Linked DNA regions of Homo sapiens. The protein of the gene in region 2 purifies or fractionates together with the protein of the main gene of each other region. This does not show direct contact. Each region holds a gene or a part of one and is shown on either strand. Other genes may lie near its edges. The genes, in order: IFT88, IFT80, TRAF3IP1, IFT25, IFT81, IFT56 and IFT46.

What was found.
Region 1: the proteins of IFT80 (region 2) and IFT88 purify together in Homo sapiens (affinity purification with mass spectrometry; 2 studies listed by BioGRID and IntAct, with this or other methods). This does not show direct contact.
Region 3: the proteins of IFT80 (region 2) and TRAF3IP1 purify together in Homo sapiens (affinity purification with mass spectrometry; one large-scale study listed by BioGRID and IntAct). This does not show direct contact.
Region 4: the proteins of IFT80 (region 2) and IFT25 purify together in Homo sapiens (affinity purification with mass spectrometry; 2 studies listed by BioGRID and IntAct, with this or other methods). This does not show direct contact.
Region 5: the proteins of IFT80 (region 2) and IFT81 purify together in Homo sapiens (affinity purification with mass spectrometry; one large-scale study listed by BioGRID and IntAct). This does not show direct contact.
Region 6: the proteins of IFT80 (region 2) and IFT56 purify together in Homo sapiens (affinity purification with mass spectrometry; one large-scale study listed by BioGRID and IntAct). This does not show direct contact.
Region 7: the proteins of IFT80 (region 2) and IFT46 purify together in Homo sapiens (affinity purification with mass spectrometry; 2 studies listed by BioGRID and IntAct, with this or other methods). This does not show direct contact.

Annotation. Positions count from the first base shown.
Region 1 is NC_000013.11:20,688,319-20,692,600, forward strand, and holds the end of IFT88 (intraflagellar transport protein 88 homolog), read left to right. Parts: intron 1-2,386; coding exon 2,387-2,497; intron 2,498-2,735; coding exon 2,736-2,857; 3' UTR 2,858-3,126; downstream 3,127-4,282. UniProt on the Homo sapiens protein: Positively regulates primary cilium biogenesis. Also involved in autophagy since it is required for trafficking of ATG16L and the expansion of the autophagic compartment.
Region 2 is NC_000003.12:160,256,486-160,259,855, reverse strand, and holds the end of IFT80 (intraflagellar transport protein 80 homolog), read left to right. Parts: intron 1-1,220; coding exon 1,221-1,331; 3' UTR 1,332-2,870; downstream 2,871-3,370.
Region 3 is NC_000002.12:238,322,958-238,327,951, forward strand, and holds part of TRAF3IP1 (TRAF3-interacting protein 1), read left to right. Parts: intron 1-2,348; coding exon 2,349-2,417; intron 2,418-2,851; coding exon 2,852-3,013; intron 3,014-4,994.
Region 4 is NC_000001.11:53,928,357-53,933,350, reverse strand, and holds part of IFT25 (intraflagellar transport protein 25 homolog), read left to right. Parts: intron 1-3,205; coding exon 3,206-3,312; intron 3,313-3,407; exon of another isoform or gene 3,408-3,505; intron 3,506-4,910; coding exon 4,911-4,979; intron 4,980-4,994. UniProt on the Homo sapiens protein: Component of the IFT complex B required for sonic hedgehog/SHH signaling.
Region 5 is NC_000012.12:110,144,143-110,149,136, forward strand, and holds part of IFT81 (intraflagellar transport protein 81 homolog), read left to right. Parts: intron 1-2,810; coding exon 2,811-2,906; intron 2,907-4,994. UniProt on the Homo sapiens protein: Component of the intraflagellar transport (IFT) complex B: together with IFT74, forms a tubulin-binding module that specifically mediates transport of tubulin within the cilium. Binds tubulin via its CH (calponin-homology)-like region.
Region 6 is NC_000007.14:139,143,778-139,148,771, forward strand, and holds part of IFT56 (intraflagellar transport protein 56), read left to right. Parts: intron 1-3,206; exon of another isoform or gene 3,207-3,367; coding exon 3,368-3,513; intron 3,514-4,428; coding exon 4,429-4,600; intron 4,601-4,994. UniProt on the Homo sapiens protein: Component of the intraflagellar transport (IFT) complex B required for transport of proteins in the motile cilium.
Region 7 is NC_000011.10:118,544,043-118,547,981, reverse strand, and holds the end of IFT46 (intraflagellar transport protein 46 homolog), read left to right. Parts: intron 1-695; exon of another isoform or gene 696-1,834; coding exon of another isoform or gene 1,835-1,863; intron 1,864-2,128; coding exon 2,129-2,189; intron 2,190-2,487; coding exon 2,488-2,573; intron 2,574-2,970; coding exon 2,971-3,066; 3' UTR 3,067-3,439; downstream 3,440-3,939. UniProt on the Homo sapiens protein: Forms part of a complex involved in intraflagellar transport (IFT), the bi-directional movement of particles required for the assembly, maintenance and functioning of primary cilia. May play a role in chondrocyte maturation and skeletogenesis.

The DNA.
Region 1 (4,282 bases), on a different chromosome or scaffold from region 2:
CTTGGGCAACAAGAGCGAAACTCCATCTCAAAAGAAAAGAGGCCACCCTACAGATGATGGATTTTCACCTTGGTTCTAATGTAGAAAACAAGAAGAGCTCTTTTGATAATTCCTAACCATAAGTAAGCCTTCACTCACATAGTTTTGGAGCTAGAATACATATTATATCTGTGTGTTCTGAAGAACACCAAGCTGAAAATTTGATTTAAAGTGGACTTCAGTTGGTGAGGCTACAAGGTGCCTACAAGAAATAAACTTAAATCCTCCTTGGAGGAATGCACTTTTAAGTTCCAAAGAATAAGAACCTACAGTTAAGAAAAAGTATGCATGCATGAGGAAATAAGTCACTAAGAGTAAGCAACAACAGAAACTATAGAGTCCAATCTTCAAAGACTACAAATATTGTAATTATTATTTATTTATATTAGAGATGGGGTCTTGCTGTATCACCCAGGCTGAGTGCAGTGGTGCTGTCATAGCTCATTGCAGCATTGGACTTCAGGGCTCAAGTGATCCTCCCATCTCATCCCCACAAGCAGCTGGGATAATAGGTGCATGCCACTCTGCCCAGCCAAGTTTTATTTTTTATATAAGCACTTTATTTTTATTTAATTAATTAATTTATTTATTTATTGAGACAGAATCTCACCCTGTAGCCCAGGCTGGAATGCAGTGGCACGATCTGGCTCACTGTAGCCTCTGCCTCCCAGGCTCAAGCAATTCTTCTGCCTCAGCCTCCTGAGTAGCTGGGATTACAGGTGTGCACCACCACGCCCGGCTAATTTTTGTATTTTTAGTAGAGACGGGGTTTCACCATGTTGCTCAGTCTGGCCCCGAGCTCCTGACCTCGTGATCTGCCTGCCTTGGCCTCCCAAAGTGCTGGGATTACAGGCGTGAGTCACCGTGCCCGGCCCCAGGTTTTATTTTTTAAAGGTTTGCTTTTTCCACAAAATTTGAATCTTTCAGGCTAGGAATTTGGATTTGGATTTCAGAAGGGTTTTGGGTGCCTGAGGGAGCTATCAGGGTTTTGTTGGTAATTTACATCTGTGTAAAAAGTGAAATAACGTTGTCGTATTTACTAATGAGGATGTGTTTCTGACATTCCACAGTATTCCTCAGTGAGCAGTTCTGTGAGGCATTTCCATCTTATCTCTGTAATGAGAACACCTACATTTTTGTGGAGACATTGGTTGTCATATCTTATGTACCCATGAGTCAAAGAACTGTGTATGCCCTTGCCCTTCGTTGACTGCAAACCCTAAGGCAAGAAGGCCTGTTTGGACCACTCCCTGCCAACTTTGTTTTATGTTTCTCACCCAAACTTTTCTTCTCACATACTCATTCATCTTTTAAAAGATTGCTATATAGTTATTGTGTATATATTTGGTGGCTTATCTTAAACCTTTTTGGAGACAGGTAGGATATACATTATTCAGAAAAAAAAAAGTAAAAGAAATATCCCTAGAGCAATGTTTTTCAAACTTTATTGACTTGAGCTCACTCAGGCAGTTTAAAAGACACCCGTATACATTTCTGCATGGAAAAAATTAACTTTTGTTTTAACAAAAAGAGAGGGACAAAATAATGTAAAATATACTAAAGTGTGTAGACATATTCAGTACACTAAAGAGCTTTATTTTCCCGTAACATCAGTGGTAGGGGAAATGGTAAGGTTTTGGATAAGAACCTTAGAGAAGACTTACTATTTTGGGTCAGTTGGCCAATCTTAAAATGTGGGGATTTTAAAGACCATCTTGTTCTGATTTATTCCCAGAGACATTATCAGTAAACTAAAAGACAAACTATATTCAAAAACGAAATGGTCAGTGTGTTTATCAGTGGACTACTCTCATTAAAAGTGAGGCTTACATAATAGAAAAAATATCACTCTAGGAATTCTAAGGGGAAGAAAGGAAAACTGTGGGGCTAGAGGAGTACTTTTAGAAAATATCACAGAAATTTCTGGTTAAAAAGTACTACTAACATTTCCTACTAATGTTAGTGTTCAGTTTTATCTGAAAATCCTCAGTGATACATATTACATTTTTTCCTAAGGCAGCCATTGCCTATTTGGGCAATTATAAGAGTCAGGGTGATCTCTTACTTTCTCTTAAGTTCTTCCATAAAATTGAAACCTATAAGTAAGCACACATTTGAAAGAATACATATACAGACTACTCTTAAGTGATGTTTTATCTATATTATAGATTCCCACAAGATATTTCTTTTAAATTTCAGAAAACAAGAATTATATCCCTAAGAAGCTGGCTTCCAAATTAAACAACCTGCTTGTTTCTTGGCAAATAAGTATGCTTTAAGATGCATAATGTAGTTTTATGTTTTCTCAACATATTAAACAAATGCATTTTTATTTTCGTGTTTTCAGATAGTGGCCAGAACTATAGTGCCAGTAGTAAAGGTGAACGACTAAGTGCCAGACTCAGAGCTTTACCTGGGACAAATGAACCTTATGAAAGTAGCAGTAACAAAGAAATAGGCAAGTACTCTCCACCCAGTTCCTCCAGGCATAGCAGGTCTGAAGAAGAATGGTGAGATGGCCAAAAGGTGTTGCTGGGAATTCTTAAGAATTTGATATTTACAGATAAAATTTAAAATGACTTGGGAGACCATTTCTGTTCACTCTGAGTTATTCATTTTGACTATGAGCCTGATTGGTTTCACATTTGTTTTGTTTGTTTACATAACTCTAACGTGACAATCTCTTCGAAACCTAGATGCCTCCTATGTGGACCCACTTGGCCCTCAAATAGAACGACCAAAAACTGCAGCCAAGAAAAGGATCGATGAGGATGATTTTGCTGATGAAGAATTAGGAGATGATTTGCTTCCAGAATAATATTCACTTTAATATTTATTAAAGGAAAGAAATTGCCTTATGAGATCATCCTCATGTTAAACCTTGGATTAAATATCTAACCTGTAATTATTTTTTTTCACTGTCAAAACTTAAGTAAGTGTATTCTATTCTGTATGTATGCATTTAAGTTGTTTTTTTCTTTTAAGGAATAAAAACAGGTAAAACTAATACTTTAGGCCAGTGACTTCCTTAGCTTTTTGAAAACATTGACACACAGGAAGAAATAAATTTCATAACACAACCTAGTACATATATGTGTATGTAGTCATAAAAATTTACCCTTATTATTGCAATACATGCTAATATTTTCTATAGTTTCATTCAAACAAAGTGCTAGTAGTGAAGCCACTACATTGATTTCATGGCTTGCAGATTGAAAAATGCTGTGTGGACATAGGCACAATTTCTATTCATACTTAAATTGCTTGGAGTTTGGAAATTCTTTGGAAGATTTGCCTTGTGGGGATTAGAAACACTATTAAAACAATTATGTTTTGGAAGCAGTATAAAGGGTAATGGGATTAAATACCAAACCATAACCCTAGTGCTCCTTTCCGAAGTTCCTTTCTACTTCAGCCCGGGGGTGTGCACCAATAGCACAGAGCAGTAACAACTCTAAGATGGCTTTTCCCATTTGTGACTTAGTGGGTTGGGGGCAGGACTGCCTGCATTTTTCTTTAACAATGTGTTTGGCTGGTCTAGAGTCTCCAGAGGAATTATAATGACGAGGATGTCAGAAGCAGTGGCTTATCTCTAACACTATACCAAAGAGAATGGACCCCTCAATCTTACTTACCATTGTCTCTGCAACGTGCATGCTACTGTTAGATGCGAGGGAGGAAAACCAAAACTAGACCACATTCCTTGCTCCCAAAGTAGGTTATGCTCTAATTGATGAGACAGCCAACAAATACAGTAAACATCCAGTATGTGCAGAGAATTCATTAAAATTTGGGGGATACAGTAGTGAAAAAGAACTATACCTTGCCCTCAAGAAGCTTAAATTCTGGTGGGGAGATGGAAAATATATTTTGTTTGTTTGTTTGGGTTTTTTTTGAGATGGAATCTCACTCTGTCGCCCAGGCTGGAGTGCAGTGGTGCAATGTTGGCTCACTGTAACGTCCACCTCCTGGTTTCAAGCAATGCTCCTGCCTCAGCCTCCTGAGTTGCTGGGATTACAGGCACGCACCACCACACCTGGCTAATTTTTGTATTTTTAGTCAGACGGGGTTTCACCATGTTGGCCAGGCTGGTCTCGAATTCTTGACCTCATGATCCACCCACCTTGGCCTCCCAGAGCTGGGATTACAGGCATGAGCCAGCGTGCCTGGCCAGAAAATATGTTTTTAAAGGACTCTAGATATTGTTAATTACAGTTAAGAGAACAAAATGGAGTAATGCAAT
Region 2 (3,370 bases):
TCAGAGTTAGTTTAATCTATGACCCAATTTTTTCCATGTCTTGCCTCAGAAAGGATAAACATTCCTAAATTAGTGATCTCCAAACTTTGTTAACTGGTAGAATGTGCTTTCCTAAAGAAGTTGCTCATAGAACTCAGGGGCAGAGTCTATTCCTAACAAGTCTAATGAACTTAAGAGAGGAATAGGGCTGGGCTAGGGGAGGGGAGACTGCATAACGGATAGAAGGGAAGCAAACAAATAAAAATGTTTGCACTTTGCAGTTATTCTTTTCATGTGTTTCCCAGTCTTGCTTTCCCTTCGCTTTCTCTAACATCTTTTCCTCATTGTCTTAATGACCACCATGTCTTACTTTAAGAGTTGGTGCAAAGGAGCCACTTTCACAGAATATGCTTAGGGGAAGCTAATGAATCCCTGTCTTTCCTCATAACTAGGCTTCCAGTGGAAACTGCAGTATATAAGATGTGAAGCCTATTTGAAAAATGGCTTGGTAACCAGAGTCCGGTCCACTTTTTCCTCGTTTGGAAGACAGCGGTCCATCTCATCCCCTACCTTGTCCCTGAGCACGTGTACACAATCCTAAGGCTCCATGGGACTGTTTAGATGTACCTTTATAAATAGCTGTGACTAGATTTTGGTCTTTTAAATCACAATGAGAGTCTTTGCTTTTTATTATATAATTCTTATTTTTTGGTCTTATTCTTAAAACTACTTTGTGGTTTTTGAGCATTATTTGTTTTTGTTTTTTTTGAGACAGGGCCCTTGCTCTGTCACCCAGGCTGGAGTGCAATGGTGCAATCACGGCTCACTGCAGCCTTGACCTTGAGGGCTTAGTTGATTCTCCCACCTTAGCCTCCCTAATAGCTGGGACTACAGGTGTGTGCCACCACACCCAGCTACTTTTTTTATTTTTTGTATTTATTTTCCCATCTCGGAACTTTGCCATGTTGCCCAGGATGTTGTCAAACTCCTAGACTCAAGCAATCCACCCACCTCAGCCTTCCATACTATTGGGATTACAGGAGTAAGCCACTATGCCTGGCCAAGCATTATTTCTTCTTCTTAACTTTGATGCTCTCTTTTTCTCTAATCTTTTGATGCTCTCTTTTTCTCTAATCTTTTGGAAGTCACACAGTCTATCTGTTTACTCTTAGTTACTTTGGAGTAAACAAAAATGTCTTACACTATCTAAGCATATTTCTTCTTTTTTTTTTCTATTGCAGCTCCAAATAGATTGGGAGAAAATCAAAGCCAAAATTGAGATGGAAATTACAAAAGAAAGAGAGCAATCATCAAGCAGCCAATCCAGCAAGAGTATAGGTTTAAAGCCCTAAATGCCATGCGTATCTTTAAGAAATTTTATCTTTTGAAACACGTTCTGATTAACCAAGGGTAAGCATGTTTTGGTTGCTAAAGAAAAAAGCATAATCTTTAACCGAGTATAAGTACTTGCTGTGTATTTAGTGTAAAAGTACATGCAGAAAGATGAAACACAAAGTAATTGATGTATTTCTATCTTTTATATTTTTTAGTCCAATAATTAGCAAAATATTACTATGTACTTAAGAGATACCTGTGTAGTGTCGATTATATGTCAGTTTTTTGCCCATTACTTCATCCCTAAATCTTCAGCATGAACAAATATTAATGTCGATAATAAAACATTGGACTCTTTGAAATGTATGTTACCATTAATTTCTATTTGACCTCTAAATTGTAAAATGCCTCCAAAAGTTTATTTATAGAACAAAAATACATGAGGATGGATTTGTACAAATGTATAAAATGCCACTATTTATACACCAAGTTCATAGCAGCATTACTGGAATAGCAAAAGATGGAAACAGCTCAAGTGTCTATCATGAATGGATAAACAAATGTGCTATAATACATACAATGGAATATTATTTAGCTTTAAAAAGGAATGAAATTCTGATAAATACTACCTCAGGATAAACCTTGAAAACACTATGCTAAGTGAAATAAGCCAGACACAAAAGGCCAAATATGATGCCACTTTTATGAGGTACCAGCATAGGCAAGTTCACAGAAACAGAAAGGAGAATAGTGGTTGCCAGGGACTGCAGGGAGGAGGAAATGGGGGGTGGGGTTATTGTTTAACGAGTACATAGTTTCTGTTTGGGATGAACAAATTCTGGAAATGGATAGCGATGATGGTTGCTCAACATTTTGAATGTTAATGCCACTAAATTGTACCCATAAAAATGGTTAAAATGGTAAATTTTGTTATGTATATTTTATCATAATTTAAAAAATATATCTAGAATGGGCAAGAAGGATTCTCCTCATTCCTCTCTTGACTTGAGAATGATCAGTCAATAGGCCCTGAAGTCTGAATTTGTGAAAATTTCCTTGGGTGACAAACTTGTTTGATTACTCTATTTAGTGTATCCCAAAGTTATTACCACATAATCTTTTAAACAATAAAACAAATACCCCTTAGAAAGTCTTCTGCAAACCCATTTCTGAAAATGGTACATTATAGGGTGGGTATAGATGCATAGATATGGGATTATGTATGATATATATATATATACACACACACACAAAGGGATAGAGAGATTACCTCTCTTAACCCCCATTTTAATTACTATGTCTAGGTTTTTTAAATAAAAATCTTTTCTTTTTAACATGTTTCTTTTCTTTTCCGGAATATTGGAATATTCTGTTCTTGATCCAGATGAAATCTGATTGAGCAGTGTACTTACAAGTTGTACTGTGTATGTGTTTCCTATATTGTTATATTTCAATAAGAAGCTTAAAATGTTTAAAAATAAATGGTTAAAAGGTTTTATGTTATGTATATTTTACCACAATAAATGCAAAAAATAAAAAGTCTGTGTTCTAAACAATTCTCTCATATCCTAGAATTCAATCCAATTCTAACACTAACTACCTAGAATTAGAAACAGATCCCACAAGTTAAAGGGCAAGGTTCCCAAAAAGACTGCCTTTATTTATTTATTTGTTTATTTATTTTTTGAGACAGGGTCTGGCTCTGTCACCCAGGCTGGAGTGCAGTGGCCCCATCACAGCTCACTGCAACCTCCGTCTCCCGGGTTCAAGCAATTCTAGTGCCTCAGCCTCCTAAGTAGCTGGGATTACAAGTGCCCACCACCACACCCAGCTAATTTTTGTATTTTTAGTAGAGACAAGGTTTCACCATGTTGGCCAGGCTGGTCTCAAACTCCTGAATTCCTGACCTCTAGTGATCCGTGCTCCTCGGTCTCCCGAGGTGCTGGGATTACAGGCATGAGCCACCGCACCTGCCCTAAGACTGCCCTTATTTTAGACTCCAGCCACAATCAGAGTCCCCAGGCTACTCACACTTGTGTCTGACTTGGCTGCACAT
Region 3 (4,994 bases), on a different chromosome or scaffold from region 2:
ATATTATACACACATTGCTATATTAGTATTTTAGCTATAGCTACACTAACCACCCCGTTTCATTAAGCTAAGTGTGGATACTGTGACGTTAATGTCTCTTGTCACTTACAGTTATTGTTCACAATTTTTTTTTTTTTTTTAGAGGGATTCTTGCTCTGTCGCCCAGGCTGGAGTGCAGTGACACAGTCTCCACTCACTGCAACTTACGCCTCCCAGGTTCAAGCAATTCTCCTGTTTCAGCCTTCTGAGTAGCTGGGACTGCAGGCACATGCCACCATGTCCAGCTAATTTTTCTATTTTTAGTAGAGATGGGGTTTCGCCATGTTGTCCGGCCTGATCTCGAACTCCTGACCTCAGGTGATCCGCCTGCCTCGGCCTCCCAAAGTGCCGAGATTACAGGTGTGAGCTACTGTACCCAGCCTATTGCTCACAATTTTAACTGCCAGCATCCTGGGAAAACCTCAACAGGGACAAAATGAAAATGTTCCAGGAATGTTAAATGCAGGATGCTCTTAATATTCTACCTGTCATCTCAAGAAAAACAGTAGCATAGCTCTTACATAGTGTGGTGTGGAATGAAAACTCCTAGATTCATTAATACCTAACTTGATGCAAATTAAGGAGTTGTGGCTTGATTCCAGAGGAGGCTCTCATTAGGGTGGGACTGTCTTGTTTTTAAAACATGTCTTCCCGTAATAAATATGCTTTATTAGCTGACCTAGGATATGTGGCTATGAGCATACCTGTCCTTACCACATACCATGCAGCCTGCTGGTAAGGGTCCCAGCTATTCAAAATGCTTGTTGCTACAAATTGTATTGATTTTACAGTAACCTACCACATTTCAAAAAACTGCAGTCTGAGACAACCCAGGACCCTGGCTGGGTGTGGTGGTTGAGAGGAACAGGAAAAATAATTGCCCTAAAAGCTGGTTTTAGGGCTAATTAGGAGGTACAGGTTACCTGAGGGAAGGGATGATTAGGGAGAGAACCAAAGCAGTGAGGTGTGGAGCCTGCCACCATCTTAAGAAGTGAGTAGTGACACGTGGTGAGGAGAAAGACCCTTGCAGAACTTCTAGTCTTAGCAAACTAGGTTGAGAAATTCCTTTTCTTTTCTTTCTTTTTTTTTGAGGCAGAGTCTCACTGCGTTGCCCAGGCTGGAGTCCTGTGGCATGATTCTGACTCACTCCAACCTCCACCTCCCGGGTTCAAACAATTCTGTTGCCTCAGCCTCCTGAGTAGCTGGGATTACAGACGCCCACCACCATGCCTGGCTAATTTTTGTATTTTTAGTAGAGACGGGGTTTCACCTTGTTGGCCAGGCTGGTCTTGAACTGCTGACCTCAAGTGATCCACCCACCTCGGCCTCCCAAAGTGCTGGGATTACAGGTGTAAGCCACTGTGCCCAGCCAAAGTTCCTTTTCTTTTTGGAATCTGTTCCCTCCATTGCACCTGAAGGACTCTTGTAAAATGCCGTTCCAGGTCCTCCTCGTGGTCCTTCAGCTCAGTTCATGTCCCTGAGTGGCTTCACAGGGCCTCTGCACCAGGCCCCGAGTGTCTCTCTGGCCTCAGGCTCCTGCTGTCCTACATTTCTTTTGATCCCTTGCAGGGGACTCTGTGGGTCCTGGACCTTGTGTGGACTTTCATTTTCTTTTTTTCTTTTTTTTGAGACGGAGTCTGGCTCTGTCGCCAGGCTGGAGTGCAGTGGTACGATCTCGGCTCACTGCAATCTCTGTTTCCTGCTTCAAGTGATTCTCCTGCCTCAGCCTCCCCAGTAGTTGGGACTATAGGCGAGCACCACCACACCCAGCTAATTTTTGTATTTTTAGTGGAGACAGGGTTTCACCATGTTGGCCAGGATGGTCTCGATCTTCTGACCTTGTGATTTGTCCGCCTCAGCCTCCCAAAGTGCTGGGATTACAGGTGTGAGCCACCACACCCAGCCGTGTGGACTTTCTTATGTTTGGCATGTGCATCCGAAATGTCCCCTTGCCCAACTCTTCTGTAAGCCTGGTCCCCATCTAGGTATGATTCCTCCAGGAAGGGTTCCCTGCCACTCCTGCTCCCTCCCGGATTGTGGATTAGGTACCAAGCCTGAGTGCTTCCTTAGTACCTGCATGGTGTCATCTTTACCTGTCTGTCCACACAGCCAGACTAAGTTCTGAGAGGATCTGGCTGGCTTCTGCCCTGCACAGCACGTGTAGTAGACATCAAATATTTCTTAAGTGGATGATTCAAATCTGGGCTGCTAGTCAATTCTGACATCTCCCAAGTGTGGAGTTGAGTGGATGAGGCTGATGAGGAGGCTGTCTGTGAGGTGACATGGTGGCCTTTCTTTCTCTCTTGAAGGTGATTAGAATGACTGGTTTCATGAAGGGCCTCTACACAGACGCCGAGATGAAGTCTGATAATGTGAAGGTGGGTTTGAGTCGGGCTTCTCCTATTGACTCCTCGCCTTAACGGATGGGATTTTTTGTAGGCCTGGTAGTGTGGCTTGTGTCATTTCTCTGCTGCATGTGGTTGGAATACAAGGTCAGTGAATTCGTAAATTGATATATATACCCTTTCTCATTTCATTTTCTCATTGTGGCAACTGGATGTCATGCTAGTTTTATTCACTGAAAAATGGGATTAGTATTTCAAAGGTTAATGCTAGCCCATCAACTAAATTAAAGGCTTTAATGAATTGTTTTTGTTTTGTCAGTAAAAGGTCAGTATTTCTAGATTTGTTATATATCTAAAAACAGCTTTGTATGTAAACAGAAACTATCCTATGCCTGGTAAACATACAGAAGATAATGCACACTCTTCAAAGTATTGTAATATTTGTATTTTCAATGGAAATGTTTCAGGATAAAGATGCAAAAATTAGCTTCCTACAAAAGGCCATAGACGTGGTTGTAATGGTGTCGGGAGAGCCACTGTTGGCCAAACCAGCCCGAATCGTGGCGGGGCATGAGCCTGAAAGAACAAACGAGCTGCTCCAGATAATTGGAAAATGCTGTCTCAACAAGGTACTACTGCTGTCCTGGCATTTTGAACTTACTTAGTACTTGAGTAAAAAGTAGTCGGGGGTGAGGGACTCACATGTGCGGGCGGTTTAGGGAAGGAGTTTCAGTGGTGTCTGTCAAACACTGTGCTTTGAATCTGATCCCACCCCTTCTGGAGCCCCAGAGATACAGAAGGAGTAATTTAATACTGAATGATAAAACAAATAAGGGTATGTAATACGCAAGTTCTGCAAGCTTTCAGTAGAAAGTCGGGAACCCTGCAGGCACACTGTGCCTGGCTGGAGGCTGGAGGCTGCAGGCCCAGGCTTCCATGCCCTCTGGCTTTCTCCTTTCTGAGGCTCCCTTGAGGACAGGTGGCTGCTTCCAGCCAGGGCTGCAGTGGCTGCAGGAGCTGCTTTTCTTCTTCCCTGGGTCTTATGGGAGTCTCTGTTCTCTTCCTCCATCTCCAGCCTCTGGTGTCTGCTTGCCTGTTGCCCTTCCTCTCTCTCTTCCACCTTTTCTCTCTCTCTCGGTTGCTGTTTCAGTTGTACGGGGAGTAGATTTTTTCTTTCTTGAGCTTTTCACTGTGGGCTAGAAACTTGGGTGTCAAGGCCTCAGGCTTCTCTAGTTAGGTCCAGCCTGGGCCATGTTTGCCCAAATGTTGGAGAAGGTCTTTCCCCAGGGTCTTCCTTCTTTTGAGGGCCGAGTAGTGCCCTGTGGAGGAGCAGGTTGGACTTGTATTGAGAGTGTAATTAATACAGTTTTTCACATACCTAGTGGGTGGTTGGCTGGGGGCTAACCTTAAATGTGACCCAAATGGGAACAGGTAGGTTTCAGCCCCCTCAACAGCAGTGGGTAGTGGAGGTGCATAGTGGTATCAGGCCGACTCCTAGGAGGCCCCCCCAGTGCAGGTCCAGCATGCAAACTTAGAGACTTGGAAGCAGATCTTGCCAGTACACTGGCCTCTGTCCCTAGGCTCCCCAGCTCCCCTTCCCGGGTCCTTTATGTTTCTCATCTTTCTAAAAAGCACATCTGGCTCCTGTCTCCTCTGCTGAATCATCTCCGGCTTCCAGTAGCCTCGGGTCTGGGCCAGCTCCATGGCACAGCTTGTGAGGCTCCTAGAGACCTGCTGCTACTTCTCTCCCTTCAGATCCTTCTCTCGTTTCCCATATCTGAGCCCTCCATTCCAGTCGCCACGCACCCCTGCATTCGGCCCTGGCCGGCTGTCTCCCGTCGGCCTCTTGCCCTGGTGCCTGCTGGCTTCTTGGTACCTGAGCTGCCTTCCTCCTCCAGCCTCACCCAGCAACAATGTGGCGTCTGTGAGTGCTTCCTTGAGCCTGGGCCTCTCCTCCCTCCCAGGCTGACTTAGGTGCCCCTGTAGGCTTCCTATAGGCTGTTGTTTAATTGTTGTGTTTATCTGTGTCCCCAGTACACGGTGTGTCTTTGGCCTAAATGGAGCCTGGCACGCGGCAATCACGCAGCATGTGCTTGTGGAATGAGTGCGTGAGTCAGTGGGACTCCTGACTGAGGTGTCCTGCACTCTGGATGGCTGTCGGGGATGCTGGAGAAGGAATTTTTGCGTTTGATGGGGCTTGAATCAGATCAGTGGTTTTTTACCCATAATTTTATTATTGTGTTAAAGTCCATAAAACATAAAATTTGCCATCTTAACCATGTTGAAGTGTACACTTCAGTGCTGGTAAATTCATTCATCTGCAGCCATCACCACCTTCCATCTCCAGGACTCTTCTCCTTGCAAAACAGACTCTGTCCCCATGAAACACTAACTTCCTCTTCTCCCGTACCCCAGCCCCTGGCACCCTCCATTCTACTTTCTGTCTCTATGAATCTGACTACTCTAGGGACCTCGGATAAGTGGGGTCATAGAGTGTTTGTCATTTTTTTGACTGGCTTATTTCACTTAATATAATGTTCTCAAGGTTTATCCATGTTGTGGCATGTATCAGAATTTCATCGCTTTTTAGGGCTGAATAATATTCCATTG
Region 4 (4,994 bases), on a different chromosome or scaffold from region 2:
CATCCTGGCTAACATGGTGAAACCCCGTATCTACTAAAAATAAAAAAAATTAGCCAGGCGTGGTGGCGCATGCCTGTAGTCCCAGTTACTCGGGAGGCTGAGGCAGGAGAATGGCATGAACCCGGGAGGCGGAGCTTGCAGTGAGCCAAGATTGTGCACTGCGCTCCAGCCTGGGCGACAGAGTGAGACTCCGCCTCAAAAAAAAAAAAAAAAAAGAGAAAAAGGAAGAGAGGATAATCCTAAGTGTATATGGACCTAATAATAGTTCTTTAAACTACATAAAGCAAAATCTGACAGATGAAAGGGAGAAATAGACAAATTCACAGTTATAGTTAGAGATTTTAATACCCTTTTCTCAGTAATGATAGAACAATTTGGCAGAAAATCAATAAAGACATAGATGATCTGAATAATGTCATAACCTTGACTTTGTTGACGGTTATAGAACACTATAATCAACAACATGGAACAAGAATGTATTGATGGGTTGTGTATGGTGGCTCACGCCTGTAATCCCAGCACTTTGGGAGGCCATGGCAGGCGGATTGCCCGAGCTCAGGAGTGTGAGACCAGCCTGGACAACATGACAAAACCCCATCTCTACGAAAAAACACAAAAATTAGCCAGTCATGGTGGCGTGTACCTGTAGTCCCAGCTCCTTTTGGAGCTGAGGCATGAGGATGGCTTGAGCCCAGGACGTCAATGCTGCAGTGAGCCAAGATTGTGCCACTGCACTGCAGTCTGGGTGACAGAGCGAGACTCTGTCTCTTAAAACCCAGCATATTGAACATTCACTGAAATGTGCTGAAACATAAAATAAGTCTCAATATATTTCAAGATTAAAATCTTAGATAGTATGTTCTCTGACCACTGTGTAATTAAATTAGAAATAAACAACAAAAAGATATTCAGAAAACCCCCCAAAACTTAGAAATTAAACACTGCACTTCTAAATAACCCATGGGTCAAAAAAGAAATCAGAAGGGATCTTAGAAAATCTTTCTTTTTTTTTTTTTTGAGATGGAGTTTCCCTCTGTCATCCAGGCTGGAGTGCAGTGGTGCAATCTCAGCTCATGGCAACTTCTGCCTCCTGGGCCTCAGCCTCCCAAGTAGCTGAGACTACCGGCATGTGCCACCACACCTGGCTGATTTTTGTGTTTTTAGTAGAGACGGGGTTTCACCATGTTGGTCGGGCTGGTCTTGAACTGCTGACCTCAGGTGAGCACCCTCCTTAGCCTCCCAGAGTGCTGGGATTACAGGAGTGAGCCACCATGCCTGGCCTTAGAAAGTATTTCTAACAGAATGACGTTGAAAATGTAACATACCAAATTTGTAGGATGCAGCTAAAGCAGTGTCTCAAGGGAAAGTAATAGCATATATACTTATGTTAAAAAGGAAAAAAATGTAAAACCAATAATCTAAATTTTCACCTTAGGAAGCTAGAAAAAAATGAGCAAATTAAACCCAAAGTAAATAGAAGAAAATAAATAGTAAAGGTGAGAGCAGAAATCAACAAAATAGACAATTATTAGAAAAAATAATAAAGCCTAAAGTTGATTATTTGTAAGGATTAATAAAAGTTATAAACCTCTAACAAGATTAGCCAAGAAATAAAGAAAATGCAATTTATTAGAACCAGGAATGAAAGTAATATCACTACAGATTCTAAAGGAATCATATATAAAGAACAAATTTAAGCTAATACATTTGACAACTTAGATGAAATGGACAGATTTCTTGTAAAGCTCGACCTATAAAAATAACACAAGATCAATTGGAAATTCTGGACAGCCTCATATCTATTATGGAAATTAAATTCGGTCAAATATTTAGGGAAGAAATACCAGTCTTCCACAAACTTTCTCAAAAATAGAGAAGGAAACATTTCCCAAATTGTTTTATGAGAACAACATTATCCTGATAGCAAAGCCTGACAAAGACATGACAAGAAAGAAAATGGAGCGCAAAATAGTACAACCACTTTGGAAAGCTGACAGTTTCTTATAAAGTTAAATATACTTTTACCCTATGTCCCAGCAATTCCACTCTTAGTAATTACCCAGAGAAATGAAAACATGTTCACAAGCACTTGTACAAGAATACTTAGAGCAGCTTTGTTCCTAATAGTAAAAAGCTGCAAGCAATTAAAATACCCAACAAAAATATCAAACAAAATCACGAATGGAAACATTGTAGCATAGTTGGTGGTGATAGAAATCAGAGCACTGGTTGCCTAAGGGAGGTAGGGATTGTCTGGAAGGAAAGATAAGGGAAATTCTGGAGTCACGGAAATGTTCTGTATTTTCATTGGAGTATTGGTTACATAAGCGTATACATTTATCAAAACTCACTAAGTTATGCCCTTAAGGTAAATTCCACTGTAGGTAAATTTTACTTCCAAAAAAAGAAAAGCTTATATAGTTAAAATAGAAATGATTATTTCTGTAGTCAAAACCATAATATATACTATTTTGCCTATATATGACTTAAAATTGAGTGCATGTTTTAATTTTTGTTTGAACAAACATTTAGCATGTGTCTACTATGGGTGAGCCATTGTAGCAGTTGTAGGGTTACAAAGGTGAGTAAGAGAAAGAAACTGGACTCAGAGCTCAGCATCTAGTGGGAGCCATAGAAACACAGGAGATTAAGTGCCAATGTAGAGATGGAGGCTGAGTATGAGATAAGTGCAAAAGAGGGAGGAAGTGATTCTGATTTGGTGGGGTTAGATAAATGGGACCAGAAAGTGAATGAACTTATGCAAGGGGAAGAACGGTTTTTCAGGTAAAAAAAAAACCTCATGAATGAACTAAGGTACAGAAGCAAGAGCCTGCCTAACATATTTGCAGAATTTTAAGTGGCCCAGTGTGACCACAGTGATGGAAGAGACTATAACTTAATGGTGGAACCAGATCCTACAGTCTTAAATGCCATACGAAGGAGTTTAGAATTATAGGCAATAAAGGGACCACTGAGGCATTTAGATAGAAGTGACATCAATTCCGTTTCTGTGTTTTAGAAAAGAATACCTGGTAGTAGTAAAGAAGAATTATTAAAGTTGGAGAGAGATTAGAGGCAGAATTAACAGAAAGGAGATGTGAGAATCCAGTAGTCATTTAATTTTAAAAAACAGGTATTCAATAAAATTTTATGATTAACCATTTATATTTGGCTATTCTTATTTTTTCTTTAAAATTAACAATAGGAATCCAGAAACGTTTTGGACCACCACAGGAATGTTTCCCCAGGAATTCATTATTTGTTTCCACAAACATGTAAGGATTGAAAGGCTTGTAATCCAAAGTTACTTTGGTAAGCAAATCTTACATTAATTTTTTTTTTTTTTTTTTGGTGCTCCAGGTAAGGCTAATATTTTAGTTTTCATTATCCTTTCATTTTTTCCACAGGCAGAAGGCATATATGTAAACTTTTGGCAAAACACTAGTTTTTCTTTATAGCATGGAATCCAGTTTTATTGCTGGGGTGAAAGGATGGGGATTATGAGGTAAATGCCTTGAGCTCAGTTGGCCTCTCTCAAACTGCAAATTCGAAACCCTTCCAAAGCACATAATAATTTCCATGCAATTTACTATGTAAAAGTCTTTGGCAAAAGGCCCTATTAGGAACATAAGACTCCAGCTTGCTAGAACACTATTCCATGACATCTTTATTCTAGATTCATTTGTCCTGGAGTTATTTGTCAAATTCTTGTTGAAAATCTGATAACTCTGATTATTTACATTGGATAGTTGAGATTCTTCTATTACTAGTGGCATTTTCTCAGGAATTTAGGGGGATAATCTCCCTTGGGACATCATTCTAATCCTATTTATTTAAAGATAAAATGTATCAGACAAAATCATGGCGGGAAACAGAATACATCCCAGATGGTTCAAATGAAGAGGCTCTATTGATGGGGCTACTTGCAAAATTATGGCCTGGGTTAAGGGAACAAACAAGGCAAGGAATGATGAGGCCCTCAGAAACTAGCTATAGCAGGAAGCTGTAACTAGCCCTGGCACAGGGAAGGAAATAGTGTTATCAGAGATCTGTGAGAGCTGAAGCCTGTGTAAAAGGGCCTAATAGGAGCTGTAGGCAGGAGAAACTGTCAAAGATGTCACACTGAAGCAGGGAGGGAGTGGAGATAAAATTGGCTGATCTCCCTTCCCCACCCCAGTCTCCCCCTGGTGTCTCCCACTGGCCAAATCCAATCCAATCAGAAGCCAGTGGGTAAATGAATCCAGGTGATAGAGTCCACAGAGGTTAGCCCCTCATGGCACAGAACAGGACAAAGAAGAGGAGGAATGGATCTGGAGTGGTAGAGACTGGACTGGAGCAGTGGAGAAAAACCAGTTTAGAAGGAAGATGACTGTATTCCTGATAAGTCTCTTCTCTCATTAATCGTGGAGGTTCTAGAGTCATACCTAAAGTTTGAATTCCATTTCTGGCACTTATGAGCTGTATATCATTGAACACCTTGCTTGGCTCCTCTAAACCTGTTTTCTCACCAGTAAAGTGGGTTAAAGTACCTTTCTCATAAGATTGTAGTCAAAAGTGAATGGATAAATATGTTTGACTCATCATAGGCTCTCCATAAATGTTTATGACCAAGACCACCAATAGTAGTATTATCGCCATACACACAAAAAAATCGGAACAATGCCAAATTCAGAAAAGCTCTACTTGCTCTGTGTTGTATGGTTGCGAACATTTGGAAGATTAGTTACACAAGACTATATTTTACCATAGGGTTTTTTGGAAACATACAGAGTAACTTCCATGTTGTTTCTGATCCCAGTGCTCTGTGTAGTTCCACTGTGCATGATAATCTCAGGCAGAGGGAAAAAGAAATATAGGGACAAAAACATACAGCCAGATTAACACTTTACTTACTTTGTTTACAATGTTAGTACAGACCTTGAAGATTGAAAAAAGCACGTCTAAAGAGCCAGTTGATTTTGAGCAATGGATTGAAAAAGGTATGTGTTTCACCA
Region 5 (4,994 bases), on a different chromosome or scaffold from region 2:
GCTGGGATTACAGGCACGAACCACCATGCCCGGCTAATTTTTTGTTGTTGTTGTTGTTTTTGTTGTTGTTGTTTTGTTTTTTGTTTTTTTTTGAGACAGAGTCTCGTTCTGTTGCCCAGGCTGGAGTGCAGTAGCGTGATCTCGGCTCACTACAACCTCCGCTTCCCGAGTTCAAGCGATTCTCCTGCCTCAGCCTCCTGAGTAGCTGGGATTACAGGCACGCGCCACCACGCCTGGCTAATTTTTGTATTTGTAGTAGAGACAGGGTTTCACCGTGTTGGTCATGCTGGTCTCAAACTCCTGACCTTGTGATCCACCCATCTCAGCCTCCCAAAGTGCTGGGATTACAGGCATGAGCCACCGCACCAGGACTTGTTTTGTTTTTTGAGACGGAGTCTTGCTCTGTTGCCTAGACTGGAGTGCAGTGGTGAGATCTCAGCTCCCTGCAACCTCTGCCTCCCGGGTTCAAGCCATTCTCCTGCCTCAGCCTCCCAAGTAGCTGGGACTACAGATATGTGCCACCATGCCTGGCCAATTTTTTTATTTTTAGTAGAGACGGGGTTTTGCCATTTGTCCAGGCTGGTCTTGAACTCCTGACCTCAGGTGATCTGCCCGCCTCAGCCTCCCAAAGTGCTGGGATTACAGGTGTGAGCCACTGTGCTTGGCCTGATTATACCATTTTTGTTCCCTAGAATTAAAATGCTAGGTCAGGTGCAGTGCCTTTTTTTTTTTTTTTTTTTTTTTGACGGAACTTGCTCTGTTGCCCAGGCTGGAGTGCAGTGGCACAATCTCAGCTCACTGCAACCTCCACCTTCTGGGTTCAAGCGATTCTTCTACCTCAGCCTCTCGACTAGCTGGGATTACAGGCGCACACCACTATGCCTAATTTTTTTTTTTTTTTTTTTTTTTACACGGAGTCTCACACTGTCACCTAGGCTGGAGTTCAGTGACATGATCACAGCTCACTGCAGCCTCCATCTCCCAGGCTCAAGTGATCCTCCACCTGAGCTTCCCAAGTAGCTGGGACTACAAGGTGCATGCCACCAGTTCTGGCCAATTTTTGAATTTTTTGTACAGACAGGGTCTGGCCATGTTGCCCAGCATGGTCTTGACCTCCCAGATTCAAGAGATCTGCCTGCCTCCGTCCACCTCAGTCTCCCAAAGTGCAGGGATTACAGGTGTGAGCCATTGCACTCAGCCTAATTGAAATGTTTTGACTTGCTAATTCTTTAGTGTGCTTACTATGTGGTTAATAGCCACTACAATTAAATACATAATTCTGACTGTTTTGGTTTTTTTTGTTTTTTTTTTTTTGAGATGGAGTGTAGCTCTGTTGCCCAGGCTGGAGTACAGTGGCGTGATCCCGGCTCACTGCAACCTCTGCCTCCTGGATTCAAGTGAATTCTGCCTCAGCCTCCCCAGTAGCTGGAATTACAGGCACCTGCCACCATGCCCAGCTAATTTTTGTATTTTTAGTAGAGATGGGGTTTCACTGTGTTGGCCAGGCTAGTCTCTAACTCCTGACCTTGTGATCCACCCACCTCAGCCTCCCAAAGTGCTGGGATTACAGGTGTGAGCCACCGCGCCCAGGCCTGACTGTTTTATTCTTTTAATTTACTTAGAAAAATTAAATGTCCAAGTCAGATCTGGCTAAAATTTTGTTTTGTTTTGTTTTGTTTTGTTTTTGAGATGGAGTCTCACTCTGTCACCCAGGCTGGAGTCCAGTGGTGCGATCTCGGCTCACTGCAACCTCCACCTCCTGGGTTCAAGTGATTCTCCTGTCTCAGCCCCTGGAGTAGCCAGGACTACAGGTGCATGCCACCAAGCCCAGCTAATTTTTTGTATTTTTAGTAGAGACGGGGTTTCACCATGTTGGCCAGGCTGGTCTCGACCTCCTGACCTCAGATGATGCACCCGCCTCAGCCTCCCAAAGTGCTTCAATTACAGATGTGAGCCACCGTGCCCGGCCTAATCTGGCTAAAATTTAATGTCACAGAATTAGGGTTAGGGTTAGAGAGAACTCTAATCTTTCAAAGGATGGATACACTGAAAACCATGGTTTTTGTTTTGATATGTTGAGGAACTATATGCTTCTGTCAGATTTATTCAGTTTTATTACATTTTGGAAAGATTTAGATTAATGATTAGGATAAATGATAGTTATCGAAGAATCACAGATTATTAGCACAGGAAGGGTGTTATCCCTGTCAACTGTCAGCTGGGTTCATGAATCATTGTAATAAATCCCTGGTGCATATTTGTTCACATTTGCTTTATCACTTTCAGTGACTTGAAGTCACAACGTAGGTGAGGGGATAACTTCAGATTTTTAGAAAGCATCTTTGTGGTAATGTATAAATATTTCATGTAAAATACTTTAGGATAATTTAGACATAGATGATTAAATCTATATAAGTAATCAAACTGTGTAATTATATGTCATGAAATGTAAATTGTTTCTAAAGGTAATCATAACAAGCTCCCCATAACATTAATGAAACTGTTTTGCCCATCAGAGACTTAATGTTAAGAACTGTAAATTCCAGATGGGTGCCATGGCTCACGTCTGTAATCCCAGCACTTTGGGAGGCCAAGGTGGGAGGATCACTTGAGCCCAGGAATTCAAAATCAGTCTGGGCAACATAGCAAGACCCCATCTCTTAAAAAAAAAATTAGTCTAGGTGAAACTGAGACCTTGTCTTTAAAAAAAAAGAACCATAAATTCAAAGCTGGTTTGGCCAGACGTCACTTAGTTTGTGTACTTATAGGGAAAGTTTTAACTTTTTTTTTTTGCTTTCATGCTATTTTAGATAAATGAAATAAACACAGAAATTAACCAGTTGATTGAAAAGAAAATGATGAGAAATGAGCCCATTGAAGGCAAACTCTCACTGTATAGGCAACAGGTAAGAACATTCTTTTGGCTCACATATTTAGATCTGTAAGCATATTCATGAACCACTGGCTGTGTTATCTATAGTCTTAAAGTGAGAAGGAAGTAGAGAATAAATGTTGTTCTGTCACTGCTAATCTCCATAGTATATCAAAGAATTAGTGGAAAAGCCACAAAAGATGCTTATTCAAGTTTGAAATTACGATACCCCTAATAATGCTTAGTTTCCTTAGCATGTACGAACTGTGGTAATAGAGCTATTTGTGTTTGTATCTGTGACTGTGGAATTTATTTTTAAAATGAAAACTTACCTTAGGTGGTATAAATAAAAATATTTATAATTTTTAATGAGTTAATAACAGTATGCTTTTTCAAGTTTAAAGTTAGTTTGCAAGTGTAGAATAAATTAAATTTTAGTGCTAAAGCATTTATTATTTTATCCACAACTAAATTGTCACTTAGTTTTTGAGGGTACTTATCTTGTTGTATATTTCTATAAAAGATTCAAATGAAGGCCATGGCTTATCTGAAAAGAACCAAGGCAGGAGGATTTTAGTGTGAAGAGCACTCTACAACCTCAGAAAATACTAAGCTACATAACAAAGCATTATTTAAGGACATTAGAATTTTTTAAAACCTTTATAACGGAAAATTTCAATCAATTACAAAGGTAGAGGCAAATTGTTCAATAAACCCTCATGTGTCCCTGAGCTACAGGGCTCATGGCCATTCTTGTTTCCTCTATACTGCCAACCCCAACTATATTATTTTGAAGCATATCTTAGACTTCATCATAACATTTCATCTATAAATGTTTCAGAATATATATCTAAAAGATAAAGGCTTTTTAACTTAACCACAACATACCACATCTGAAAATTTTAATAATTCCTTAATATCAGAAAATATTCAGTCAGCCAGGAAATCAATGACATTCCCTTGTCTCTCTTTTTTTCAATTAAGATCCATATAGGATTCATATATTGCATTTGGCTGATAAGTTATTTATTTATTTATTTATTTTTTGCTGTCACCTATCTGTCCCAGAAAGTTTGTCTCTTTTAATCCATATGTTCTCTTCCCATCGATTTATCTATTTAGTGCTTTTTGGCAATATATGTGTTGACAAAACTGGTTCATTTTTCCCATGATATTTCTAACAGTTTGTGTTTTACTGATTGCAACCCTATGGTGTTGTTTTACCATGTTCATTTGTTTCCCGTATTTCCTATAAATTAGAACTAGGAGCTTGAACAGATCTGGTTTGATTTTTTTTTGGCAAGAAAACTTTCTAGGTGGTATTACATACTTTTATTTGGAAGTGATAATGCTCGGTTGTCTGAGCAGCCACTTACTATTATTGCTCATTGCTTATCCATTAATTTTATTATAAATTATAAAATATTCATATTTTGATTCCTTCTTCATTTATTAGCTGGACTACTTTTTTTTTTTCTTTTGAGATGGAGTCTCACTGTCACCCAGGCTAGAGTGCAGTGGTGCGATCTCGGCTCACTGCAACCTCCGCCTCCCAGGTTCAAGCAATTCCCTGCTTCATCCTCCTGAGTAGCTGGGATTACAGGTGCCCACCACCATGCCTGGCTAATTTTTGTATATTTAGTAGAGACAGGGTTTCACCATCTTGGCCAGGCTGGTCTTGAACTCCTGACCTCATGATCCACCCGCCTTGGCCTCCCAAAGTGCTGGGATTACAGGTGTGAGCCACCGTGCCTGGCCCTGGACTACTTTTATAAAGAGAAAACCTCTCATCAACTATTTGGTTATCCTGAGTTATAGTTCATATAGGATAGGCAGGGTACATGCTTTGTTTTTATCATTATTTATCAGTTTTCATAATGAATTTGTTTCCTCTAACTCATTTGCATCCTCCAACAGTGAAGTGATCAATTAGGGCTATTTTTTGTTGTTTTTTGTTTATTTAATCTCATTATGAATCCTAGACATTATAAGTTTTAAACAGTATCCTTAATGATGCTCAAATTGTCCCAGTTTTGGCTAATGGGAGGCTTTTCAAGTTAACTTTTGACTTCTTTTCAGATTCTAGTGGTCTTTGATAATTTCCTTGCTTTCTGCATTATTT
Region 6 (4,994 bases), on a different chromosome or scaffold from region 2:
CCTTTTTTTGGATTGATTTTTAAAACTATATATTTATCCTCGATTTGCTTGCTAGTTATGTACATTGGGAATATTATTTTAGCAGTTACCATATCATGTGTATTTTGCATATTAAAAAGTTTGATATTGATTAGTACTTTTACCAATTTCTAGAAAAATTAAAGGACCTTAGATCATTTAAACTCATTTACTCTCCATCTTATGTGCAAATTTGAAAAATATTTTAAGTGTCTATATGTTTCTAATCCCATAAGACTGTTTTATTACTGTTTTATGCAGTTAATATTCATTTATAATTAGCCATATTTTTCCTTTCCATTGCTCTTCATTTCTTCTTGCATGTTTGTGCTCCTATCTGAAATCATTTTCCATTTGAGGAATTTCCTTTAATATTTCCTTTAGTGGTGATGAATTCTCTCAGTTTTTGTCTAAACATATTTTTATTTGACTATGGTTTTTTAAAGGATTTTTTTCTCAGTGTAGAGTTCTAGGTAGGTAATTATTTTTGCTTAGCATTTTGAAGATGTTGCTTTATTGCTTCCTAGGTCCTTGTCTCTACTGAGATGTTAGCCATCAGTCTAATTGTTGCTCCTATGAAGATTTTTTTTCTGATCATGTTTAAGATTTATACATTGGTTTTTGTTATTAGCACTTTTCCTATAATATTCCCAGATATGGTTTTCTTTGTATTACACTACATCAGGTTCATAGTGCTTGCTCGAGGTCTTTTCTTTTTTTAATTAAAAGAATCCTTGGTCATTGTTACTTCAAATTTTGCTTCTGCTCTATACTCTCTTCTTTCCTTCTAGGCTCCCAGTAATATGTATGTATGTATGTATGTAGACCTTTTGTTTGTATCGCATGTAAACACTTTGTCACATTTTCTGTATATTTCCACAGAAATTTATTTTACTAATCATCATTCTTCAGCTGTGTCTAACCAGCTATTCCATTTATCTATTTCGTTCTTAATTTCAGTTATTGTATTTATTTTTAGAATTTACATTTTATTACTTTTTAAATTTCTAATTTCCAGTTAAAATTTCCTAATTTTTAATTTAATTTCTTAAATATATTGATAATAAGTTATTTTTAAAGTCCATGTCTAGTAATTCCAATAGTGTATCTCTGGACAGCTGTTTCCTGGTTTTCAGTCAAATGTTCTTATCTCCTGGTTTGCTTGGCAATATTGTGTTTAATGCTGGCTATTGTATATTAAAATATAGAGAGATAATTCGAGTCTCTGGATGCTTTTGTCTTCTTCCAGAGAGGATTTAGAATTTACTTTTACTTCTGGCAGGCACATAGAAAAGGGGCAAATCAACTGATACCTGTCAGAGATTGCAACAATTTAAAGCTGGTCTATTTCCATTTTACCTCTGTTTCTAGGGTAGCTTTCCAGGGGTCCCAACTGATAGCTTGGTGGGCCCCAATCTCTATTTTTTTGTCCATTAAGCCCATAAGACTTCTTGAAGCTCGCTTAGTTTTCAGCAACTCAGCCACCAATTGAGAATTGATAGGTACCATTAGAGAAAAAAATGGTACTAAATATCAGAATCACCTCTTTGCACTTCTGTTCTGCTTGGGATCTTGGTATCTCAAGTCTTCACTCACTTGGTAGCTCTCTGAACCCTTCACGTAGATTTTTTTTGTTTGTTTTTTTGAGACAGGATATCACTCCCCGTCACCCAGGCTGGAGTGCAATGGCGCCATCTCAGCTCACTGTAACCTCTGCCTCCCAGGCTTGAGCAATCCTTGTGCCTCAGCCTCCCAAGTAGCTGAGATTACAAGTGTGCACTGCCATGCCCAGCCAATTTTTGTAGAGACAGGGTATTACCATGTTGCCCAGGCTGGTCTCAAACTCCTGAGCTCAAGTGATCTGCTCACCTCAGCCTCTCAAAGTGCTGGGATTATAGGCGTGAGCCACTGCCCCTGCCCCTTTTACACAGATTTTTCAGTAGTTTTTAAGATTTTCTAGATGTTCTTGGTGGGAGCACTGCATACTACAAGCTACTCTAATATTATTAGTAGTGAAAGTCTTTGATTGAATTTAAAGAAATATATTTTATTGTGTTTTTCTTCTGATTACAAAAATAATACATGTTCATCATAGTACTTTTAGAAAATAGCAAATTGCATACACACAAAAATCAAGATTTCCTGTAAGACTGCCACTTAGAGCTAACACTGTAATATTTTACTCTCTTTTCTTCCAGTCTTTAAAAAATTTGTATTTTTATATGTGTATATATGTGTATATTTATATTGCCAAATTTGTATCATAGTATATATTCTGTTTTATAACCAGGCTTTTCACTTAAAAATGTATCATGAACATTTTTCCATGTAACTAGATAGTCTACAGAAGACAATTCTTTACAAAATTTTTAAGCTAATAAGTCATTCTCTGTAACAGGCAGGAGTGAGCAATCTACATATTAAGGGTCACTGTCAAAAATATATCTGTTCTGCCCCATATATAAGCAAAAGGCAGCTAATATTTGCGGCAGCCATCTAACAAAATAAGCATTACAAGGTTGGAATAGAATTCTGACAATCTCAAACAACAACAATATATAGTAACTGAAGAAAGGATGAAAAAATGTAGAGCAGGAAATTAAAAATTGAATACACTAGGTTACATGATGAGAAATACATTTTGATTCCCTATTGTCTACCAAGAAGAACGAGATATGAAAGAACAGATTGGCTGGGCACAGTGGTTCACACCTGTAATCCCAGCACTTTGGGAGGCTGAGGTGGGCGGATCACGACGTCAGGAGTTCAAGACCAGCCTGGCCAACATGGTGAAACCCCATCTCTACCAAAGATACAAAAAATTAGCCGGGCGTGGTGGCATGCGCCTGTAATCCCAGGAACTTGGGAGGCTGAGGCTGGAGAATTGCTTGAACCTGGGAGGCAGAGGTTGCAGTGAGCCGAGATCGTGCCATTGCACTCCAGCCTGGGGGACAGGGCAAGACTCCGTTTCAAAAAAAAAAAAAAAAAAGAAGAAAGAAAGAACAGATTAAAAATGTTACCAGGTAATAGTAAAGAGAGTAGACAGAAAAAGAAAAGGAAAGGGAGAAAATATAAAGAAAAAGAAAAGATAAGGGGAAGGGTCAAATAGTATTAACTGTAACCTAAGGGCTTTCCATTGTCGTTGTCAAGCTATGCCTCCAGAGGCTATTTCCATTGTTTCTTTGCAGGAGAAATGAAGTAGAAGACAAAGAACCTAAGGGAAATAGGAAGAAGAGAGAGACACAATGGCTAAAGAAGGAAGAGTTAAAATCTCTATCACATAGATATTGATTTCTCTAACAACACTAATATGAATCTTTACATGTCTTTTCCACTCTCACAATTTTAGTTTAATGATGAGAAAAAATTGATGAGCTTTCATCAAAATCTTCAGGATGTCACAGAAGATCAACTCAGTTTGGCCTCAATCCACTATATGCGATCTCACTACCAAGAAGCTATAGATATATATAAGCGAATACTGCTAGATAACAGGTCTGTGTCCTTTTATGCCCACTCTCCATTCCTTTCATTTTGTTAGTTTCTTCTTTAACTAGTTTGAGAATCTAGTGTCCTCTGGATCTAGTACCACTATGTGTTCAAATCTGTTTAGTTGATAATTTGGTGAGATTAAGAATTAGATATTGTCTAAATCAGGCTTTCTCTACCTTTTTTTGCATTGTCACCCTTCTAAAAGACTTTTTCCCCCAATTGCCCTCCCATGAAATTTTAATATACTGATAGATGTATATTAATATATATCCATATATGTACTATATGTATAACTGTGCTTTACATATAAAATGATTATGATTTTTTCATCCTCCCATTAAGAACCAATTTTTCCCCTTTGGGGGTAATACTGATATTACCCCAGTTGAAATGTATGGTCTAGATGTATCAAACTTAGTGTTATAGTTACATCGTAGGTAACTTGCTGACAAAATTAGATACAAATCATTCTTAAGAATTTACATTCCAACTTTAAACACTTGGCCTCTCTCTCCCTTCCCAAAAATATCTCATCCCCCTTCTTTCCATCCTCTTTTGCATTACCTTCTTAGTCTCCTACCTGCTTCCATTTCCAGCCATCAAGCCTATGTGTCTTGTCTGTTGGTCTTCTGTGTGGAGTGTGCTTGTGTTTATGTTCAATTATTGCATATATTAGTTTTTCAGTGTGAACAGCGTGAACTTTCCCTTTCTTCTCTAGTCATCTTTCATTCTACTTATATCAAAACACCCAAATATTGCAATGCAAAAAGAAAAAAATTATACTGATCATATCTTGCCCTCTTTCTTCATAAGGCAGGTTCATGAACTGTCCTCTTTGCCTTGTCCATTTGAGCTTTGTAATTTGACATTTCCGTGAAGTAGACTTAAATGGTTAACCCTAATTCTTTCATCTAATAGGGAATACCTTGCCCTTAATGTTTATGTGGCCCTCTGCTACTACAAGTTGGATTACTATGATGTGTCTCAAGAAGTTTTGGCTGTTTACCTTCAGCAAATTCCTGATAGTACCATCGCACTCAATCTTAAAGCCTGTAACCATTTTCGCCTTTACAATGGCAGAGCAGCTGAGGTATTGATGGAAGTGTGTTTTTAATGTACTTCATTCCAATTTGAATTACTTTATACTTTCCAAGTTATTCATGAAACTCTGTTATCTGTAACTCTTGATTAATATCCCTTTATCATTGCCACTGTGATTCTATAAGAACCTAATTATATGTTTATCAGGTATTCTAAAAAGAATGTTGACTTCTGAATTATCTGTGTTATGTCCATTAAATTGTAGATGATTTTACTGAGATGCCCTACATTTAAAACCAAATGCTTATGTTTAAAACCAAATGCTTCTGGCCGGGCGCTGTGGCTCAGCACTTTGGGAGGCCAAGGCGGGCAGATCACTTGAGGCCAGGAGTTTGAGACCAGCCTAGCCAACATGGCCCCATCTCTACTAAAAATACAAAAAA
Region 7 (3,939 bases), on a different chromosome or scaffold from region 2:
GAAGTCAGGAGATCGAGACCATCCTGGCTAACATGGTGAAACCCCGTCTCTACTAAAAATACAAAAAATTAGCCGGGCGCTGTGGCGGGCGCCTATAGTCCCAGCTACTTGGGAGGCTGAGGCAGGAGAATGGCGTGAACCCGGGAGACGGAGATTGTAGTGAGCCAAGATAGCGCCACTACACTCCAGCCTGGGCGAAAGAGTGAGACTCTGTCTCAAAAAAAAAAAAAAAAAAAAGAAAAGAAAAGAAAAGTAAAAGGAGCTGGACACGGTGGCTCATGCCTGTAATCCCAGCACTTTGGGAGGCTGAGGCAGGTGGATCACCTGAGGTCTGGAGTTTGAGACCAGCCTGGCCAACATGGTGAGACCCCTGTCTCTATTGAAAACACAAAAAAATTAGCCGGGCCTGGTGGCGCACATCTGTAATCCCAGCTACTCAGGAGGCTGAGACAGGAGAATTGCTTGAATCCAGGAAGTGGAGGTTGCAGAGAGCCAAGATCATGCCACTGCACTCCAGTCTGGGCAACAGAGCAAGACTCCGTCTCAAAAAAGAATTTTTTTAAAGTATCAAAACAGAAAAGGAAACTGAACAAAGATGACCAACAGGTCCTTCCTAGCCATCATGTTTAAACTGCTGCACCAGCTCCCCAGCATTCCCCGCCCTCTGTCCCTGCTTTTTCTTGATAACACTTATCTTCTAACATACCATAGACTTTATTTACTTATTTTGTTCTTCCCTACTAAAATGTAAGCTCTACAAAGACAGATTTTTTTTGTATATGAAGAATTGATTGTAAACACACAGAATTTGGAAACAGTCTCTTTCCTCAGAGCATTTTGAAGCTGTAGTTGAGGGGAAGGTGTCTGATTAGGGGATTGAATAGCTAGGTTGCAGTACATCCATTCAGTGAAATACTATGCAATGGAATATTATTTGGCCTTATTTTGCTCTAATATGAAGAAATATCAGTGATATGTTGTTAAATGAAAAAAGCAAATTGCAGCAAGTTGCAGAACTATATGTACTCTGTTTTTTGTAAAAAGAGAAAAGTTTTAAGAAACCAGTAGTTTAAAAACTTCACACTGTGACTTGTTTAGATCCAGAGCCTGTTACCTGAGTTAGATGTCATGCCCATTTTCTCTGTTCATATGGTGTCCTGGAATCATTAGGCATTATAACACCAAGTAATGCATATATAACTGTTAATACTTGCCCATAACTTGGTATCAGTTTCTTTTTCACAGATTCCCACAGGAAAAGAGTATGGCAGTGTATTTTACCTATAAAACATATGACCAATTCCATACTGATCGGGGGAAAAAATAGCATGTTGTATTATTTTGCTAGGCTGCCATAACAAAGTACCATAGACTGAGTGGCTTAGACATCAGAAATGTATTATTTCATAGTTCTGGAGGCTAGTAGTCCAGTAGTAGTCCAAGATCAATTTGTTGGCATGGTTGATTCCCTCCCTCCCTTCCTTCCTTTTTTTTTACAGGGTATTACTCTATGCCCAGGCTGGAGTGCAGTAGCTCAATCTCAGCTCACTGCAGCCTCAACCTGCTGGACTCAAGCAGTCCTCCCACCCCAGCCTCCCAAGTAGCTGGGACTACAGATACTCAACACCACACCCGGCTAATTTTTTTGTAGAGATGGAATTTCACCATGTTGCCCAGGCTGGTCTCGAACTCCTAGGCTCAGGCGATCTGCCCACCTCAACCTCCCACAGTGCTGGTATTACAGGCGTGAAGCCACCACGCCCCACCAAGATTGATTTCTTCTGAGGGGTCTCTTCTTGGCCATCTTCTGTGTCTTCCCATGGTCTTCCCTCTGTTATGCGTCTTTGTCCTGATTTCTTCTTCCTATAAGGACACCAGTCATACTGGATTAAGGCCCACCCTAATGACCTTGTTTTAATTTAATTATCTCTTTAAAGATGTTATCTCCAAATATAGTCACATTCTGAAGTACAGGGAGTTAGGAACTCAATATCTGAATTTTAGGGGAACACATTTCAGCCCATAACCTGTGTCTTATGCTAGAAGCTCTTTTGCTTCAGAGAGAGAGAGTGGTTCTGGGACCACTGACACCATCCTTTTGACTTTGGTCCTTCCATGCCCCTTCCAGGTAAGCCTGCCCACGGCAGAGATTGATTGCAGCCTGGCAGAGTACATTGACATGATCTGTGGTGAGTTCCTCTTTCCTTTCCTCGTCCCCATCTCTGGATAGAGACACTCTAGGCTTTTGGACAGGCTTGTTTACTCTGGGAAGATAGTATCTTGAGTTTCAGCCTTCACTTTAAGCCCGTTGTGCTCTTTGGCAGCACTCAAAGGTGGTGTTTGGCTTATGTGACTACCTGCTGGGTATTTAACCCCCAAAGTCATAGCGACACCCCATCTGCCAGGGCTTTGCCTGTGCTAGACAGAAGGGCCTCTAATTCCCGGAGTTTGTTTGCTTCTGTTCCTGGAAGTTCTTCTTCGTTTCAGCCATTCTAGACATCCCTGTCTACAAGAGTCGGATCCAGTCCCTCCATCTGCTCTTTTCCCTCTACTCAGAATTCAAGAACTCACAGGTGAGCCAAGCATCAGGGGTTGACTTAAGCTGTAGAGAGGATCACTATAGTTTCTACTGTTCTGAGCCTGCTGTGATTGCATCCTATAGCGATGTAGGATGTCTCTGCCCAGTTACCTTCGCCCTTTCCCATAATTAGGAGAGCAAAGGAGGCAGGGATGGAGTTTTCAAGGGGAAAGTGGAGGAAAAAAAAGGGTGGGTGGAAGTAGGAGTTGTGGGCCTTAGATGAAATCAGGTGAGGATCTACAGAGGACACTCGTTCTTTCAGAACCAAGTTCCCTCATGAATGGAAGCAGGAAGGAAATAAAGGGGGTTCATTTTAAAGAAATTAATTCTTGTTAAAATATAGCAATTAGCATATCCCTAATACTCAATATTCCCTCTCCTCTTCCTTGCAGCATTTTAAAGCTCTCGCTGAAGGCAAGAAAGCATTCACTCCTTCATCCAATTCCACCTCCCAAGCTGGAGACATGGAGACATTAACCTTCAGCTGAGACACTTCCCAAGCTGCTGTTTCAAGGCTGAGCTGGCCCCTCTGCCCCAGCTGAGATGGACAGATCGTTGTCAGCTACTTGATGTCCTTGCCCATGCCACAGCTTGGCTCAGGGGCAGTGCATGTCCTGCTGCCCTCTCTGCCAGAGGGCACAGAACATGTTTGTTTAATGAACCTGCCTGCCTCAGATTGCTGTCCCCGGGGAGTTAATGCATCTACACCACTGTGGGGATTTGAGTTATAAGAATTGGAATTTCTGAGATCCCATGGAGGTTAGATTGGGAGGAAAGCTTAAAAGATGTCCTTTTTGTGAGAGGGATGGAATTGTTTTCTTTCATTCGTAAAGTTAGTGAGTAAAGATTTTATAAATCAAATGCTCTATTATATTGTCAGATTATTCTGCTATTTAATATGAAAGAGAAAAGGCTGACTGAGCATAACGCAGAGACACAGGAACTTTGCTTAGTAATGGGCATTAAATGAAGAGTAGTTAAAGCAAACAAATTTTGTGAAATAAAATGAAACCCCAATCCTCCAAGATTGGCAGTCGAGGGGAATCATTTTTCCTCTGGAATTTAATTTTTCTAAGGGTCTCTCTTCAGTTAATGCCGCCTTCCTGAGGCTGTCTGGCTCCAGACCTGTCTGGTTCTGGTCTCAGGGAGCGTAGCTATTGCGGTAATCCAGGTGAGAGGTGATTGGGGTGGCAGTAGTAGAGATGGACAGATTCAGTAAATATTTTGGAGTTATGTCAGCCAAGCTCCAGTCAGGAAGTCTGAAACCATGCTAGTTATTTCTAACAAAGGGTGTTTAGCCAGGCACAGTGGCTCACGCCTGTAATCCCAGAACTTTGGGAGGCCCAGGCAGGCAGATCATG